Linked DNA regions of Homo sapiens: region 2 is linked to region 1. The links come from fine-mapping of genetic effects on gene expression. A gene starts in region 1. The other region holds a variant in brackets. All regions are shown on one strand. Distances are from middle to middle. Region 1 holds the start of ARHGEF12 (Rho guanine nucleotide exchange factor 12). Region 2 overlaps POU2F3 (POU class 2 homeobox 3).

Region 1 (8,335 bases):
ATCATGTGGATTCCACTGTGCTTGAGATGGCAGTTTAGATTTCAGCTCTGCTGTACATATTGCAAACTAGAGCCAAAGACTTTAAAGTGTGTACTGGCCTCAGGGGGATGAGGTTAATTTTTTTTTTTCATTTTAGATACTTTCCCTTTTAGTACTCCTCCTACTTTTCTTATTTTTACTAAAAAGGTACCACTCTATGAACAAACTAATAAAACAAGGCCAGTCTTGGAAGGAAAAAAATAATAATTCTTAGTGTGACAGTCTCCAAGAGAAGCAAGAATATAAGCTTAGAACAAGGGGTTAAGAATCCAGAATTCCTGGGTTCTTTTAACTAATTTTGCTACTCACTTGCCACTTTGGAGAGCTACTCACTCACTTTGGATAGGTTACTTGTTTCTTCTTTGCCTGAGTTTAAACCTATTGTGAATGAATGAAATACCCTGTAGTATATTTCATAAATACATTATGTGGCATTTTATTAATGGAGGTCTTTAATGTAGGGCTTTTATGGAAATATGAAGTATTTATGTATTTATTGATTATTTATTTTTACCATGTTATTGAAGTCAATGGTGTTTGATTAGCTCAGTGGGTGAGCAAGCATATGGTGCTACTGGAGTCAAGGCTGGTCAGTAGGAAGCATCAGTCCATTCCATGGCCACTGGTAATCTAACGTAATGAATGGTGTCTTTTGTTGTTGTTGTTGTTGTTGTTGTTGTTTGAGACAGAGTCTTGCTCTGTCGCCCAGGCTGGAGTGCAGTGGTGTGATCTCAACTCACTGCAACCTCCGCCTTCTGTGTTCAAGTGATTCTCCTGCCTCAGCCTCCCGAGTAGCTGGGACTACAGGCGTGTGCCACCATGCCTGGCTACTTTTTGTATTTTTAGTAGAGACGGGGTTTCACCATGTTGGCCAGGCTGGTCTTGAACTCCTGACTTCATGACCCACCCGCCTCGGCCTCCCAAAGTGCTGGGATTACAGGTGTGAGCCACCGTGCCCAGCCATGAGCGGTCTTGAAAATGAAAAATGGTCTTGGCCACAGAAACCAGGTATGAGGGAGTGGTTGGAATGGTATAAAGTCATCACTGTTAGGGAAACAGTAACTTTAAATGCATGTTAACAGTGGGTCTTTAAAAATGAATGTCATTTGGTTAAAGAGTTTTGCTGGGCATTGAGATAATCTGACAGCATCTCCACTTCCTGTTTTTTTTCTTAATCTCCACTTTTTTTTTTTCTATGATGAGCGCCCCTAAAATGCTGGTAAGCTTCTTTCCAACAAAATTGCGGTCAAAGTAGGATGCTGGGGAATGCTGATTTTAGCAAAAGCTTGTAGAAAAGAGTGGCCTGGCACATGAGCTTAAAAAAAAGAAAAAAAGCTGGCTCTTGAATTTTGGCACAGTGCAACCTGTTCCATACCAGACAAATGAACAGGCTTAATCTGGTACCAATTCTTTTTCTCTCTTACTCCTCAGAAGTGAAGGGACTGCAGATCTTGTTGTTTTGGGGACACTTTCATGGAACTGTATGTAGGTTTTTTTGAATGGTGAGAAATCTGAATAATTGGTAAGGGGAAGGGAATCCCTCATTTCAGCTTTTCTTGATGTTGTTACTAATAACTATGAAAAAACTTCTGAGAGAACAATGTGAACTGAAGATGACTCAGCAGTTAAGACAATGCTAAGTTCTGAAACCACAGGTAAATGAAGGGCTAATTAATGTGTGGTATACTTGGACAAAATGAAGTACTCATTTGCACTGGATTACTGTGTAATGATAACGAACACTGTTCAAGAACGATTTATATTTCCATAAGATTTGTACTAAATTTTATAAAAGTAAAACAACTTTTTATAAACCCAGAGTCTGTCTTTATATTTATGTGGTGGTTTTGCCAAGAAGTTAAAAAAAGCCTTTTGACCTGTAGAAATGTTGACCTGTATTCATACTTACTAGTGAATATCTCTAATCTGCTGTTCATTATCCATCATTCCCCCTATTTTTTTTTATTTTGGGGGGTAACAGTTGACATACACAAAACAGTTTGCCAAAAGAGAGAGGAAGAACCTTAATGTGTTTCTTGTTCTGCCACCTGTTTGGACACTTGTCTTGAAAATGTTGATGTCAAGTGAGTTGACATCAGAGACATCATCTGAAGACAGCTGGAGGCCCTGTCTTGAGGACTGTACTACCAATGCCTAAAACAGTCTGGGATGCATAGTAGATACTTAGTAAGCATGTTGAAAGAATGGACAAGAGGATGAGAATGTGGTTTAGAATCATCCCCATTGGAAAACCTCCTCAAAGGTTTTCCCAGTGGATTGGGTCATCAATGTCATTTTTCTAAGTAAAGTACTACGGACCCTGAGGAGTGTGTTCTACCCAGACTGGCTTGACTTTCTGAAGGCATCCTATAGTTACAGCCTTTAGAACAGTTGAGCTATCGGCAGCTTTAAAGAGGCTTTCAGTTTTTTTTTTTTTTAAATCATTAATGCTTTGTAGGTGACTATAGAGATTTTCATCATTTAAAAAAATTAGTTCTGGAATGAATAACCACTGGCTTAATTCAATCTTTTGCTTACCATCTTCTGAAGCTTTCCCACAGCAAAATGCCTTCTTTGCTCACAGCTAGAACCGTGGGTCTGTTTAAGTTTGGAAAGATCTTGAAAGCAGCTTGCCAAGAGGTTTTGTATGCAAGGAAGAGAAGGTGAATTAGGAAACTTTCCCAGTTTGTTTTATTCCTGAAGCTTAAGTATTGAGGCTTCCCTCAAGTATTAAGGGAAGAGAGGAACTCCAAAATGCATGATTTGATGAGTCATTGGGTTCAATTAATTTTATACTTACACTGTAACATTATTAGGATAGGGGAAAATAAGATATTTAGTACTTTTAAGAAAGATTTATTAAGTTTGGGGATAAGGTTTGCATTTTGGTCAGTATATATATGTATATATGTGTGTATATATATGTGTATATATATGTATATATATGTGTATATATGTATATATGTGTGTATATGTGTATATGTGTGTGTGTGTGTATATATATATATATATATATATATATATATATATATATGAATGGGATTCCTTCCGGTTGCATGTAAACACTCAATTTAAGAGTCTTCAGGGTAGAATTGTCATGCTAGAATACACCAGCAGGTGGCAATGTGTCCTGGTCTCATCATTAGGGAAGTGCCTTGGCTAATCTGCTTCTATTCTTTCCAAAAATAAACATTACAAAATTAGTTGGCTGTGCCTTGAACCTAAAAAATCGAGCAATAAAGAGTCGTCTCTGGTCTCTGTTTATCTTTTCCTTTTTTTCCCCCCCGTTCTAACTAACGTCAGCGTGAGCTCATGCCTCTATTCGGGGATAATGATCCTTTCATGAACTGTTGCGGAATGACTTTTTGCAACAGCATTGTTAAGAGGTAATTGTTTCCTCTCTCCACATCCACTGTTTATTAGATTTGATTTGCTACTTGGATTCCACAAAATGGCTGAAATCCCTTGTCACCAACATAGGTTTAAGCTCAAAAGTCTGAAAATAGTTGGATAAAGGGAATAGCCACTTTGGATGTTTGCAGGCAGAACTGAAGAACTGTATTACATGTGGTACCTAAATTGCCAAAATACTGAATTATTCAATCATAAAACTAGATGGGTATCTAAAGCTCTCTACCCAGTAGGGGAAAAAACCGAAAAACCGTTTGGGAATCCTTCAGAGAGAACCGTAATGCTATTTACTGGATAAATATACTTCATTTTCTTCTCCCAGTTCTTTCCACAACACGCTTGTTAAGTCGCCATGGAAAGCACCATGCTTTATCAATTTGGCAAATAACACATTTCATTTTGCCAAGGCAGAAACAGCCTAAAAGTAATATTTATACCGAGAAACCCTGGCTGCAGTCCCCAGCTGCTCTCCCGCAGCCCTGCGCCTCCGGCTCATGCAGCGCTCTCCCCCCGGAGCCGGCAGGTGCCCAGGTGAGCGGGGCCTGCGGAGGCAGCGAGGGGCGCCGGCCGGGAACCGGCAGAACGCGTGCAGCCAGAAGACAGGAGAGATAATACATTCCCTTAAGTAATAAAAGTTTCCAGGACAAGGGGGGCTGGTAATTTTCAAAGAGCCTCCCGGCACGATGTCCTCGGGATCTGGGGGGCGCTCTCGGGCGGTCTCTGGTGAAAGTCGACTTAGTACAAACTGGACTCGAAGGGGCATGTCTCGGCACTCAGGGGCCCAGGCGCCGCGGGAGGTGGGTGGGCCTCCCGGGGCTGCACGGGTCCCACCTCCCTCTGCCCCGTAGGACTACTTTGCCGCTCTCCCAAACCGGGCTCCGGCGGAGGCGTCCGTTCAAGGGCGAGAGCGCGGCCCTGAGCGGCGGAGGGATCCCGGGTGAGGCGGCTTCCCGAAGTCAGAGGGGAGGGGGCCATAAAGTCGGCGGGGGACGGGAAGCGCGAGCTCGCGCCGGACGCGGCCAGGGCCGGGAAACCAGAACCGGAACCGGAACCCGCGCGCGCGCCCGCGGTTGCGCGGCCCCCACGGCCGCCGGCCTCCTCCGCTGTCTGCGCGCGCGCCCGCGAGGGCCTCCAGAACCCGGCGAGCCGGCCCTGCGCCGGGAGACGCCGCCGCCTCCGCCTCCCGGACCAGGGCTTCCAGGCCGGGCCGGACGGGCATCTCCCGCCCCTCGCGGGGAGCGTCGGGGAGGAGCCGCCGCCTCTGGCGATTGCGGAAGAGTCCGGGCCTCAAAGGGATGGGGAGCAGTCCGCGGCGCTGAGAGACCCGGGTCCCTGTCACCTCGGGCCGCGGGACCTCTCCGCCGGCGCCAGCGGCTCGTCCCAGCACCGGGAGCCTGGTGAGGGCGGCGAGCACAGAAGGAGCCCCGGGCCCGGGACATGGAATCGCGCGAGCCCGGCGCGGGACGGCCGGAGACGCGGCCAACGCTGCGGCCACGAGCAGCCGGCAGCCCCAGATAGAGAGCCGGGAGGGAGGGCCCCGGCCCTTGCCGCGGCGGGGAGTTCGAGGCCCCGAGACTCCGGAGGAGGAGCCGACACCCGTCCGTGAGCTGATCCCGCCCCAGCCCCGGCGGGAGTCCCGGGTCCCCTTCCCACTGCGCGCGGATTTCCCTCTCTGAGGAAGTTTATCCTTGTGCCTTCTGGAGGATTTCTCTCTAGCTCGACTCACTCTGGACTGACTCGCTCCCTGGCTTTCTCAGTTCGTTTTGGGAGATAACTTGTTTTGCTCCAAGCCGCATCCGTTGACCCCTTACAGTCGGATGGTCTAGATGACTGAATGGAGTTTTGAGTTGGACTTTTGTGTCCCTGACGGAGTTGGGCCTGATCCCAGAGCACTGGGGGTGGGGAGGAGGTGTTACTGTAAAATGCAAGTTGGATAAAAGGAGGACCTCTCGCCAAGGGCCCCAATGAGTGGCACACAGTCTACTATCACCGACAGGTTGGTATGAATTCCTCCTTCGTTCGGCCTCCCGGAATCGGGCCCGACCTAGCAGGGGAGTCGGTGATTGCAGATTGCCTTTGGCCAGCGAAGTTGACAGGCAGAGGAAAGAGGGTTGTTTCGGAGCTGTGCAGTTAGCCTGGGGTTGCTGCCGAGTTATCCAGTTGATTGGCTTTTGGAAATGTAATTTTTCCGGAGAGAAACTTCCCTTCCGATTCTCAGAGAAGGGGGAGGCAAAACCATGATTGTGGTTTTCCGCCTGTAGTGTGCATTAGGATTGTGTACTCGTCTGGAAATCAGAGGAGAAGGTCATTTTAGGTGAAGGTCGGTGCCTGAAGTCGGCTCGGTATTGGTGTATTATTTATCAGCTTTAGCCGTGTCCTGCAGTAGATTCTCAAGACAATTACATTTTAGGAATTTCTACCTGTGAACTTAATGTTGAGCCTACTGCATGGTGATCTGGGAACTTGATCTCTTTCAGATGTTGACCTGCACGGTGTTTAATTATTATCTAATAACTTTCCAGAATGTTGACATTACCAGTAAATCACAGGTTCTTGCTGGAAGCAATGTCCAGGAGCTGAAGAAATGAGGGTAAATCATGGGGTTTGCTTTTAATTCTTGTATTTAAATATTTCGTCTTCCAGAAACACTTGGCGTTTAAGAGATATAAGCCGTAAGCATAGTGTAAGCGCGCAGCTGAATTTGTTGAGTTCTGTGTCTGTCCTTTATAGCACCTACCAGTGTTGCATGGTGGTGGGTGGCGAATTGAGCTAGACCATGTGTGGTTGAAGTGCAGTTTGCTTATCCTAAGTTACTCTTGTTTATAGGGTAAGGGATAAAAAGCATATTGATTCCTTGACCACATTTCATTCTCAATTTAATTATGACACTGCATGCTAGTCCCAAATTTGTCAGCTTGCTTTATTTTTAAGTCAGTCTTCGAATTATTACACCGTGAAAAAATAGATCAAGTAACTGAATTAGAGGGCCAAAGCTCTTTGATGAAAAGTGCAACAATAGTGCTTCTGCACAAAGTAGTCTTAATTTCCTAATAAGAGTTTTACCCAATTGTAAGACTCATTTGTTGATTTTAAAAGGGCCAAATTCCATTATCATACCATAACAGCTACTCCAGAAACAGAACTTCCTCTTCCTGTTGATGCTTTCCAGCATCACATGAATGTTCACTTAAAAGAGTCTGTTAAATATTTAAAGTATTTATATTTACTCTTTGTGTATTTTTCAAAGTGGGTTTTCATTTTCAATGAAATAATTTTTAACTTTTCCAAGAATACACTTAAGATAAGTATTGACAATGCTTATCTTACTTTCTTCTGGTTATCCCCATTTTTTTCCTTTCAGGGTGTTTTGCTTCTGAGAAATCACTTTTACGGGTGTGGGGATAATTGTTTTCCTGCTTCATTCAATTCTCGCTCTTTCTGTTGAGCCTGTAAACAAAAGTCTTGCTAGGAACTAATGTAATGTTGGTTTTCATTGCGATGCTGAGGTGTTTAATTTATGGAAACAGAACGGACTCATTCCACACACAAGTGAGTGAAAAGCCCTCAAGTAATGGTTTTTCTTCAGCATTGCTTCTCAGGGATTTTCCTTGTCTTCTCGTTATCTTGGAAATAGAATCTTGGAATTTGTATCCTCTTTATAACGTAGATGGCATATAAACATTCAATAAATATGAAATTACTGAAAGCCTGTTTCTTTTCTTTTTCTTTTTTTTTTTTTTTTTTGGCCAGGCACTGTGCAGGCACAAGAGATTACAAAATGAATATTGTAAGATTAATCTGCAAATTGGTTTGGGCATTAATGTTTTTTGAACTGGTTCAGGTGCTGCTGCCTAATTTTACATTTTTTTTTTTTAAAGAAAAGACCTTGGAAAGCCAATTAATAAGCACTGCTGAGACCTGTTTCGTAGGATTTTTTTTTACTAGGGTCTTTTTTTATTAAGAATTATTCTTATTTGACCACATTTAAATATATTTTGTAAATATAAAGCATCCATTTGCTGTTAAGAGAGTAGTTGTTCCTAATATGAATATATGTTGGGGTGAAATCTGGAGGTACTGGTTTAGTATTATTTCTCTGCCAAGGTGTCTTAACAAAGTTACGAGTATATAATAGTTTCTAGCTTTCTGTCAGCCCTACCTCATCCTTTTTTCGTAGTGTCTAACTCTTACTGTAGGTATATTTTGCTGACTCTAGAACTGTTGGAAAATTAACAGCACCAGTGTAGCTTTTTAGATAGAGATCCTTTCAAGTTTGAAGTGCTGTATGTGGTATGGCTTTGTTTCGTAGAGTGTGCAGAACCACCAGGCCAGCTGTGTGAGTTAGAGTTCTTTCATTGTGGTGCTTCTGACTACAGAGTCTGTCTGTCCTCAGTTGAAATCAGACTAGCTGGTTTTGGGCGTTGTTCTGTTTTGCAGTTTGTGGCAGGCGACACATGGCTGAACAAGATAAGGGTTTTATTCTTGTGTTAGGGACGTGCTGGGGCTGGGATGGAATTCAGCTATGTTTAGGCTCTGATTGGTCACTTTGGATACTCAGAACTCTGTTACATCCTGTTATTATTTTGCAGTTAAATCAACACATTAACTTGCTCTCTTCTCTTTCCCTTCATCTTTTACTCCCCAGTCCGCACCCCTTAAAACCTAAAACTCAAACTTTTTAAAAGACTTTAAACTCAAACTATGTTCATGGTAGCTATTACTTCTATGTAGTATATCCAAACAGCTTTAAAAAAAATGGTAAGCAATTTATGAGCCCTGGAGTCTGTAGTTTTCATCGTTTAGAATGAGCACTTGACAAGTGTAGAAATGTCTGATTGCTGCTTTTTAGTCTGCATTGATTGCTGCATTCAGTCTTAAAATACAT
Region 2 (8,335 bases), 33 kb before region 1:
TGACGAGACCTCTTCTCAGCAGGGATCACCTGGGGGAGAAAGAGCCACCCCTTTCTGGAAACACATAAGAATATGCATCTGTCCCTTCACCTGCCATTTAGCAGGGCTTCTCAGGTCTTCTCTATGTGCACAAACCTAAGCTCAACCTCATGGGGCACAGAGCTCTGGCGTCTCCATTGCAGAGGACTCCCCGATCCCCCAAGCATCGGAATTATTAGTCCTATGTCCTGGGCTGGTAGGAGAAATCCTGGACTTTTTGTTTAACTAAATTGGTTTTATTAAGAATGAATAGTTTGCTCCACCCCCCAACTCCCACCCCAACACCCTCCAGGAAAGATTCTGGCCCAGGAAACAGCCGAGGCATGGCTTTTAGCATAACCAGGTGGCATGAGATTTAAAAAGAATTGGATAGTTGGGGATTGCATGTTATCTCTAGGATAAACTTTGAGAGATGGGTCATACCCAGGCTTTGCCTTCAGGGCATTTTATAGTCTAGTTGGGAGACAGGACTGACACATACAAAAATTAACTCAGGAGGCAAGGGTTAAGTAACAATATGTAGTAAGGACTCCTAGGCTGAGGGCAGAAGCTGTAACAATACCAGTGTTAACGGAGTAGCTACTATTTGCTAGACACTGGGGATACACAGTGGCATAAACCAAGGTCAGCCTGCAAAGTCTCTGAGTCTGGAGACCCCTGGGACGGACGAGTGGCAGGCAGATGGGGCTGATGTCCCCAGCTTGTAAATTCTGTGGTGTATGTGTATCTCTCCGTGTGTAGGACATGGCTTCCCTCCATCCGCTCCAGCAGCTTGTGCTGGTTCCCGGCCACTTACAGTCTGTATCCCAGTTCCTGCTATCTCAGACCCAGCCTGGGCAGCAAGGTAAGAACCCTGGGGGTTTCCACCTAGACCAAGTCCAGTCAAGTGCTGCTGTTGCTGCTGTTTTTTGCTGGGTGAGGGGGCCTAATTGGAGAGCATGCGTCAGTCAGTCACCCATCTGCTATTAAGACCTACTTATCCACCCCAGGGTCTGAGGAAGGGACCCTGGCAATGCTCCTCCAGGCTTAGTCTCCTTCTCTGCTTCCCCTTCCCAGCCTCCTGTTGGGTGGTCTGGTCCACCTCCTCAATTTCGTGGTGAGTGGAGACGGAAGGTGCAGGCGTGGAGCAGAGCTATGCTGTACAAGGGAGGGGAAGCGCCCTGGGAAATGCAGTACAGACAAGTCCCAATTCCTTGGAAATCTCTCCTGGACACAGATTCAGACTTGCTTCCTGGAAGCCTGGCTGTGATTCTATTTGGAGAGAGCAGCAGTGCCACCCACAGGTTGTAGAAAGGGTGTTCAGGTTTTCTTTGGCAGGGAAGTTACTCGCAGAGAACTTCTCCCTGGCCAAGAGCAAATAGATTGAACTATTAATAAATAGCTAACATTTCTTGAGCATGATGTGCCAGGAGCTCTTCTGAGTAATTTTTCTGACATTCCTCAAAATAACCTTGTAAAGTAGGTAGTTCTATTATGCCTCTGGTGACCTACTGGGAAGTTCCAGAACCGTTTAGCTGAGACCCATACTCTTGGTCATCACAGTGTGCTGCCTGTCCCACTCCCATCTCCATCAGCTAGGGTCAAAAGTGATGGAGGGTTGGCCAGGCTCGGTGGCTCACGCCTGTAATCCCAGCACTTTGGGAGGCCGAGGTGGACGGATCACTTGAGGCCAGAAGTTCGAGACCAGCCTGGCCAACATGGTAAAACTCTGTCTCCACTAAAAATACAAAAATTTGCCGGGTGTGGTGGTGCATGCCTGTAATCCCAGCTACTCAGGAGGTTGAGGCAAGAAAATCACCGGAACCTGGGAGGCAGAGGTTGCAGTGAGCCAAGATTGCACCACTGTCCTCCAGCCTGGGCGACAGAGCAAAACTCTGTCTCTGAAAAAAAAAAATAATGGAGGAAGTATAAACTCTCTCCTGTTGCACAAATCCCAAGTAGAGGTTTTGGAAATCCAGAATCCAAACAAAATGCAACTCTGCCTTCCGCCCTTAGCACCTGCACAAATGACAGTCACTATCCTTAGTTTCCAAGGCACCTCAGAATATTATGGTGATGAATGAGACCCTATTTGAATTTTTAAGTGTTTATTTTGGTTAAAAAATAAACATCATACTCCTGGAATGGAAAAGGGAAGGTAACAGTTTAATTTGTTTTCAGAAGACTGGAGAGCGACATGAAAATGGCCCAGGCTTATAACCACCTAGGTCAGTGTATGATGCAGTGGTGGAAAGACACTTCCAAATTTGGAGTCAGAAAAATTTACTGGTTTCTTTAAAAAGTCACTTACTAACTGTGTGTTTTGGGGAAAGTTACCTAACCTCTCTGAGCTTCCATTTCCTCTTCTGAAAAAATGGGATAATAGCAAGGCTCTGCCTCATGAGATTATTGAGAGTCACTTGAAATAATGCATGTGAAAAGGCTGTATCCATTTCAACCGCCATGTCAGAATTGCCATTAGTACCCAAGCCTCTCAACTCCCAGTTCTGGATTCCTTGTAAGAGCTTTCTTGCCTATGTATTTTAATAATGAACAATGAAGCCCTGACTTTTTGAAACTGAAGAGCATAAAGGTCAACATCAGCAGATGCTGTATGTACATTGTGACCCAGAACAGCCTAGGGAAAACAGAGACCCCAAAGTGCTGTTGAGTGACAAGCGATTGGGATGACCAACCCCATTGTCTGCTTTGGTGGTTTGATGGCCCCACTCCTGCTGGGAGAGTGAGCCACCAACCAGGCAGAGTCCCTCATGTACCGTTTTCCTGGGGAGGATGGAGAAGCCGGTATAATACATACTGCCCAAGGGAGTTTCCAGAGGCTCAGCCCTGGACTTTCCCTCCTCTCTCAGCCCTCTCTCCCAAGTATAAAATGTCCTGGTCAGCCACATGCCTCTGGCTAAGGCCCACTGCCCTTTAGAGCCGTATGGTCGTATCTGCTTGGTCTGGCATCCTCGCAGATTTGATTGGGCCTCTGTAGCCATAACCCAGCTACTTCTCCTGCAGGGAAAGCCAAAATCCTCAGCCCTAGCTTGAATTCTCAGCAGCCACCCTGCATCCTTTCCCTTCTTGGTTTTCTTCAGCTCTGGTAATCAGATCCCAGAGTAGATCGTCTTGACCCTCCTTAGCCTCTACGCCTCTCCAGACAGGCGGGCAGGTGGAAGGACTGGTTTGGGGACTGCTGTTTACATGTCTGTTTATCCCTGTATCTGATTTGCCTCCACCTGTATGTGGCAATGCCTGGCAGT[G/C]CTAGGAGGGCCTCTCCATGGGACTTGAGGTGGGTGGAGGGACCTGATCAGGTGGCAGGGGGTGGGGACAGTGATCGTGGTGCCAAAGTTGTAGCACATGTGTTTCAAATAGCCTGGATTTTATTTGTCTGTTCCTTTGTCCCTCCCCTTTCACCCAGGTCTGCAGCCAAATCTCCTCCCCTTTCCACAGCAACAAAGCGGTCTCCTCCTCCCACAGACTGGGCCGGGACTGGCATCCCAGGTAAACAACCCCATTCTTCCTGTTTCCTCTAGGAATGTCTCAGCTCTCACTGAGTTTAACTCACTGGTTTCCCCCTACCCCTTTAACAGGGCACTAACCCCTCTGGGGAGAGGGGATAGCAGGGAACTATCCATTGGCACAGGGGAAATCCAAGCTACAGCAAGTGGGGGGACAATTTACCAAGTGTCACTGGTGGGGCCACAGTTAGAATCCAGAGATTCCAGCTCCCAGGCCAGCCTCCTTCATGCTCCAGGCACTGAACTCCAACCCTGCACAGGCCCCAGCATTGCTCCTCTGAGAGCCAGGCTCAGCTCACTTCTCAGGCATACCAAGATGGCCACGAACCCTACCTAGGTGCTCTCAAGCCCCAAGAGGGAGACTAGAATACTACAGACCTGATGTCCCAGACCACAAAGCCAGTGTCTTTCACCTCTGGGCCACTATTCCAGATTGCCTCCTGCAGTGGGCACGTATATAGGCCAGTGGGCTGAGGTCTGGGAGAGGGGTTGTTTGCAGAGCTGCCATGGTTCCACACAGCACCTTTTTTCCAACTAGGAAAAAGGCACCTCTTCTGGCCAGGTGCAGTCTCATGCCAAGGTGGACAGATTGGCGACAGCAGCATGAGCTGTATCTTAGCTGCCATTCCTCCCCTGATCTGGGTGCCCCTGTACAGTTAATAACCTGCACAGCTGCATGAGATGGCTCTGCACAGATGGTTGGGCAGAATGGTTGGGAATGACTGCAGAGATCTCTGTGCTAAGATCCCCATGGCTCACCAAGAGCCCGGCCTTCAGAGAGGGCTGAGGCCACTAAAAGTACCTGGAGGGGAAGCTCGCCATCTAGTGGTTGAAATGGGGACACCAGCATCATAAGCTGCTCTTCCGCCTCCTCCTGGCTGCCCTCTCCAGAATCTCATAGCCATGGGCTTACAGCTGGAAGAGATCTTAGAATCTTCAAGATCAACTCTCATCTCTTATCATATTTTGGCATGGAGAGACTGGTAGCAGAGAGACCACATAGAAGATTATGAAGATCATCCAGGGGAGGGGTCATAAAGGATTGGCTTAGAGTTGTGGCAATAAGAAGAGGGGATGATTGAGGAGATGCTTTGGGAAGTTGAATCAGTGCAGTTTGCCAGTGGATTGGAGATGAAAGGAGGAGGGAGAAGGTCTAGCAGAGAGCCCCATAAGTCTTTGTCAAATGAAAGAACAAATGATTTAATGAAAAGGAAGGTTCAAAGAGGACTGGGGCTTTGTCCTGAGGGTCTGGTCTATGCCACACTCTCCTCACACACCCTCTCCCTGCAAACTAAGACCAAATTCATGATGGTTTCAGACTAAAAGACCCTTCACTGGGGGAAAGACTCCTAAACTTCTCTCTAGAGGTCCTTTTACCTTCTTCATCATAAGGATACCTATCTGAATGGTAAACCCAAATATCCCAGAGGAGAAGAAGTAATGTTTAGTCTACAAAAAGTAAATCAAAAAGGAGAGAAGAGGTGGATTTAGCCCTTTGAGCTAGCTGGCCACAGTGCCTGGACCCCTAGGCCCAGATTCCACTCTATCCTTGTGGAATGATAGATGTCCTTAAGATCGGATTCATTCCTGACCCCAAATAGGCACAGCATGGTTCTAGGTTTAAGGGTACGTTTTCCTATGAAAATAAGCTCAAGAAATAATATTTGGCTGGGCACGGTGGCTCATACTTGTAGTCCCAGCACTTTGGGAGGCCAAAGCAGGTAGATCACTTGAGCCCAGGAGTTTGAGACCAGCTTGGGCAACATGGTGAAGCCCTGTCTCTAAAAAAACAAAAGTTAGCCAGGTGTGGTGGCACACGCCTGTAGCCCCAGCTGTTCAGGAGCCTGAGGCAGGAGAATGACTTAAGCCCAGGAGGTTGACGCTGCAGTGAGCAGTGATTGTGCCACTACACTCTAGCCTGGGTGACAGAGTGAGATCCTGATTCAAAAAAAAAAAGAAGAAGAAGAAGAAAAAGAGAGAAAGAAAGAATATCTCCTAGCAACCCAAATGTGATCAAGGTGCATTTTATAAAGGTACTGATTAAAATACCTTTGATTAAAAACAAAACACTTTCATGAAAGAAAATGGTGGTTTAGAAAGTAAAATGAGGCACAAGAGTTTGACATTTTAGGAAAGTTCTATGAAGGCCATGAGTTATTGGATGTCCCCTGTTATCTTCAGTTAATGCCTGTTCAACACCTCAGTTACCTGCTTTATGGAAAAAAACAAAAAACAAAAAAACAAAGCAAGCAACCTTTTCTTTGTCCAGTTCTGTGATTTGTTTTTGGAATCTTTGTAAACAACCCTGCTAGCTCCTTTTATGGTAGAAAACTGAAAGGAGGAAGTAACCTGCTAAGACTCAAAAAGTGAGTCACAGGCTAAACTCAGGCCACCTCCCTATCCTGCACTCCTGATGTTTCTACCCAGATATTCCAGTTATTTGCTATACATTTATAGAAACTTTAATTTCCACTTCCATGCCACTGGAAAAATATAAGACTCCAATGTACCCAGGGTGTATCCAGGGATCTGTCATCCTCTAAGTGGGCCTATTAGTAAAAAAAAAAAAAAAAAAAAAAAAAAAAATCAGAAAATGTTATTTATTGATCTTCGTGGTGGATCTGCTTGGCGTGTTTCCTATCAGGCATTTGGGCACCCTGGGCTGCCAGGATCCTCTTTAGAACCCCACCTGGAAGCATCCCAGCATCTCCCAGTGCCCAAGCATCTACCCAGCTCTGGAGGGGCCGATGAGCCCAGTGACCTCGAGGAGCTGGAGAAGTTTGCCAAGACCTTCAAGCAGAGGCGCATTAAGCTGGGCTTCACACAGGTTTGGTTTTAGGGGAAAAGATAGAAGAAGTCTAGCCGAGCGGCTGGAGACTGGGCTTCCCAAGTGCAGGTTTCAAGAGCGACCAGAGGCTCGATGTGTTTGGGGTCTCCTCATCATGTCCCTGAGTTCTCTGAGAATAGGGCACAGTTGCCATTGGTAGGGAAACTGAGGACGTTGCTGGTGGAGGAGAATGAGAGGTGGAAAAGGGGCTGGCTCTCCTGAGCACGTGGGCGTGGTCCACTGAGAGTCTAAGGAGAGAAAGAAACCGATTCTTCACCTTAGAGGGAGGAGACTTGGAAAGGAGCCGAGCATGGGTGAGCACTCAAAGATTCAGGCTGGCTGTGTGATCGATGCTAGGACCATGCAGGATGTGGGCAAACAAGAGGAGGAGGCTGCCTCTCATGTTCCTCCCCCTCGGTCCCCACGCTTAGGGAGATGTGGGGCTGGCGATGGGAAAGCTGTATGGCAACGACTTCAGCCAGACCACCATCTCACGATTTGAGGCCCTCAACCTGAGCTTCAAGAACATGTGCAAGCTCAAGCCCCTGCTGGAGAAGTGGCTGAATGATGCAGGTAGGCCTCGCAAACACGGATGCCAGGGGCCCTAGAGGGCTCTGCAGGGAAGGGCCAGTGACTTGTCGTGTTGGGGCTTTTGGGAGTTTGATACCTAACACCCCCTTCTTCTCCTGAGACTGGAGCCGATGGAGAAACAAGACACAGGACACAGGCAAGTGTAGATGAAAGTGTCAGCTCGACTACTGAGAAGCCCTCAGAAGGATGTGGATTTAGGTCTGTGTCCATCAGGATTTGTCCCCATTCCATTCCTACCCCATCCCACCCAGCATAGATCTTAGGACAGCTTGCCAGCAACAAAGTCTGGATCTGCAGAGCAGATACACTTATGCAGATTGCTGTCTGGAATAAGTCTAGTCAGGGATACAGGGCAGTGGGGCCTCTAGGGTCTCACTGGGAGGGGGAGACCACAGGCACGACACAGGGTCTTTCCCTGGGTAGTTCTTGAGGAGGTTTTCAGCAGACAGGGACTTACTGCAACCCATGCTGGTCAGGAAAGCCTGACAGCAGGAATGGGGTTTGCAGGAGGACTCAGTGAGGGGTGGTGGCCGGGAGGCAACCCAGGAGATCAAGCGTGTAAGCCAAGGGACCTCACATTTGGCAGCAGGGACTAGCATACAGGATGGGGCTTCTCAACCTTGGCACTATAGACATCCTGGGCCAGGTCATTCTTGTTACCAGGGACTGGCCTATGCATTGCAGGATGTTTTGAGCATCCCTGGTCCCTACCTACTAGTTGCCAGTAGCATCCACCCCCAGTTGAAACAGCCAAGAATCTCTCCAGACATTGCCAAATGTCCCAGGGGGAGTGGTGGTGATGCAGAGTCCCCCCCGGTTGAGAACTGCCGGCCTAGGCAGAGAGAGGGAGTGAGCCAGTCTCCAGGGCTGGGCTCTATTCAGTCGATTCATATGGATTCGTGGTTACACTGGAGAGGGAGAAAAGGGTGGGGCAGCCAGCCAGGGCTGTTACTCATACGGAAGGGCCTCCACACGCAAGCATGGGAGGGGGCAGGAAGCTCCCCCTACAGGCTGTCCCTTAGACAGCCTTTATGGAAGCACTGAAATGAGCGAAATGATCCGAAGGTCTTCGAATCTCTGGGGAAGGGCCCTGTGACCATTCCTAGTCTCCATCAGATGCCTGAATCCTTCCTCAGGGATATCCCTCCTATGGCCCCTACAGCCTTAGCTCAAACATTTGCACTGGCAGGAAAATGACTCCAACACCAACAGTCTGTCACCAAGTGCCATTGCTTTTGGCTGCAAATCTCATTTCACATTTCACTCAGTATTCACATCCAGGCATATCTGTAAACAGCAGCCTCACGAGCATTACTCACAGGAGCCCTGCCAGTGCCCCCTTACACCCACATGTGTCACCGATGCATGAGCATCC

The links.
Region 2: its variant is fine-mapped to the expression of ARHGEF12 in whole blood (TOPMed, PIP above 0.99).

The regions. Positions count from the first base shown.
Region 1 is chr11:120,331,830-120,340,164 of GRCh38, forward strand. It overlaps ARHGEF12 (Rho guanine nucleotide exchange factor 12), which reads left to right and starts at 4,584. Exons shown (of 41, transcript NM_015313.3): 1 at 4,584-5,446. The coding sequence starts at 5,415. It overlaps TLCD5 (TLC domain containing 5), which reads left to right. Exons shown (of 3, transcript NM_001198671.2): 3 at 1-1,857. RefSeq lists a silencer at 4,171-5,040.
Region 2 is chr11:120,298,844-120,307,178 of GRCh38, forward strand. POU2F3 (POU class 2 homeobox 3) reads left to right here. Exons shown (of 13, transcript NM_014352.4): 5 at 781-883; 6 at 3,443-3,525; 7 at 6,187-6,369; 8 at 6,801-6,942. Among named protein-coding and RNA genes, the nearest start is that of TLCD5, 22 kb to the right of the region's middle. RefSeq lists enhancers at 6,853-7,370, 7,935-8,335. The variant G/C (reference allele first, on the strand shown) is at 3,285.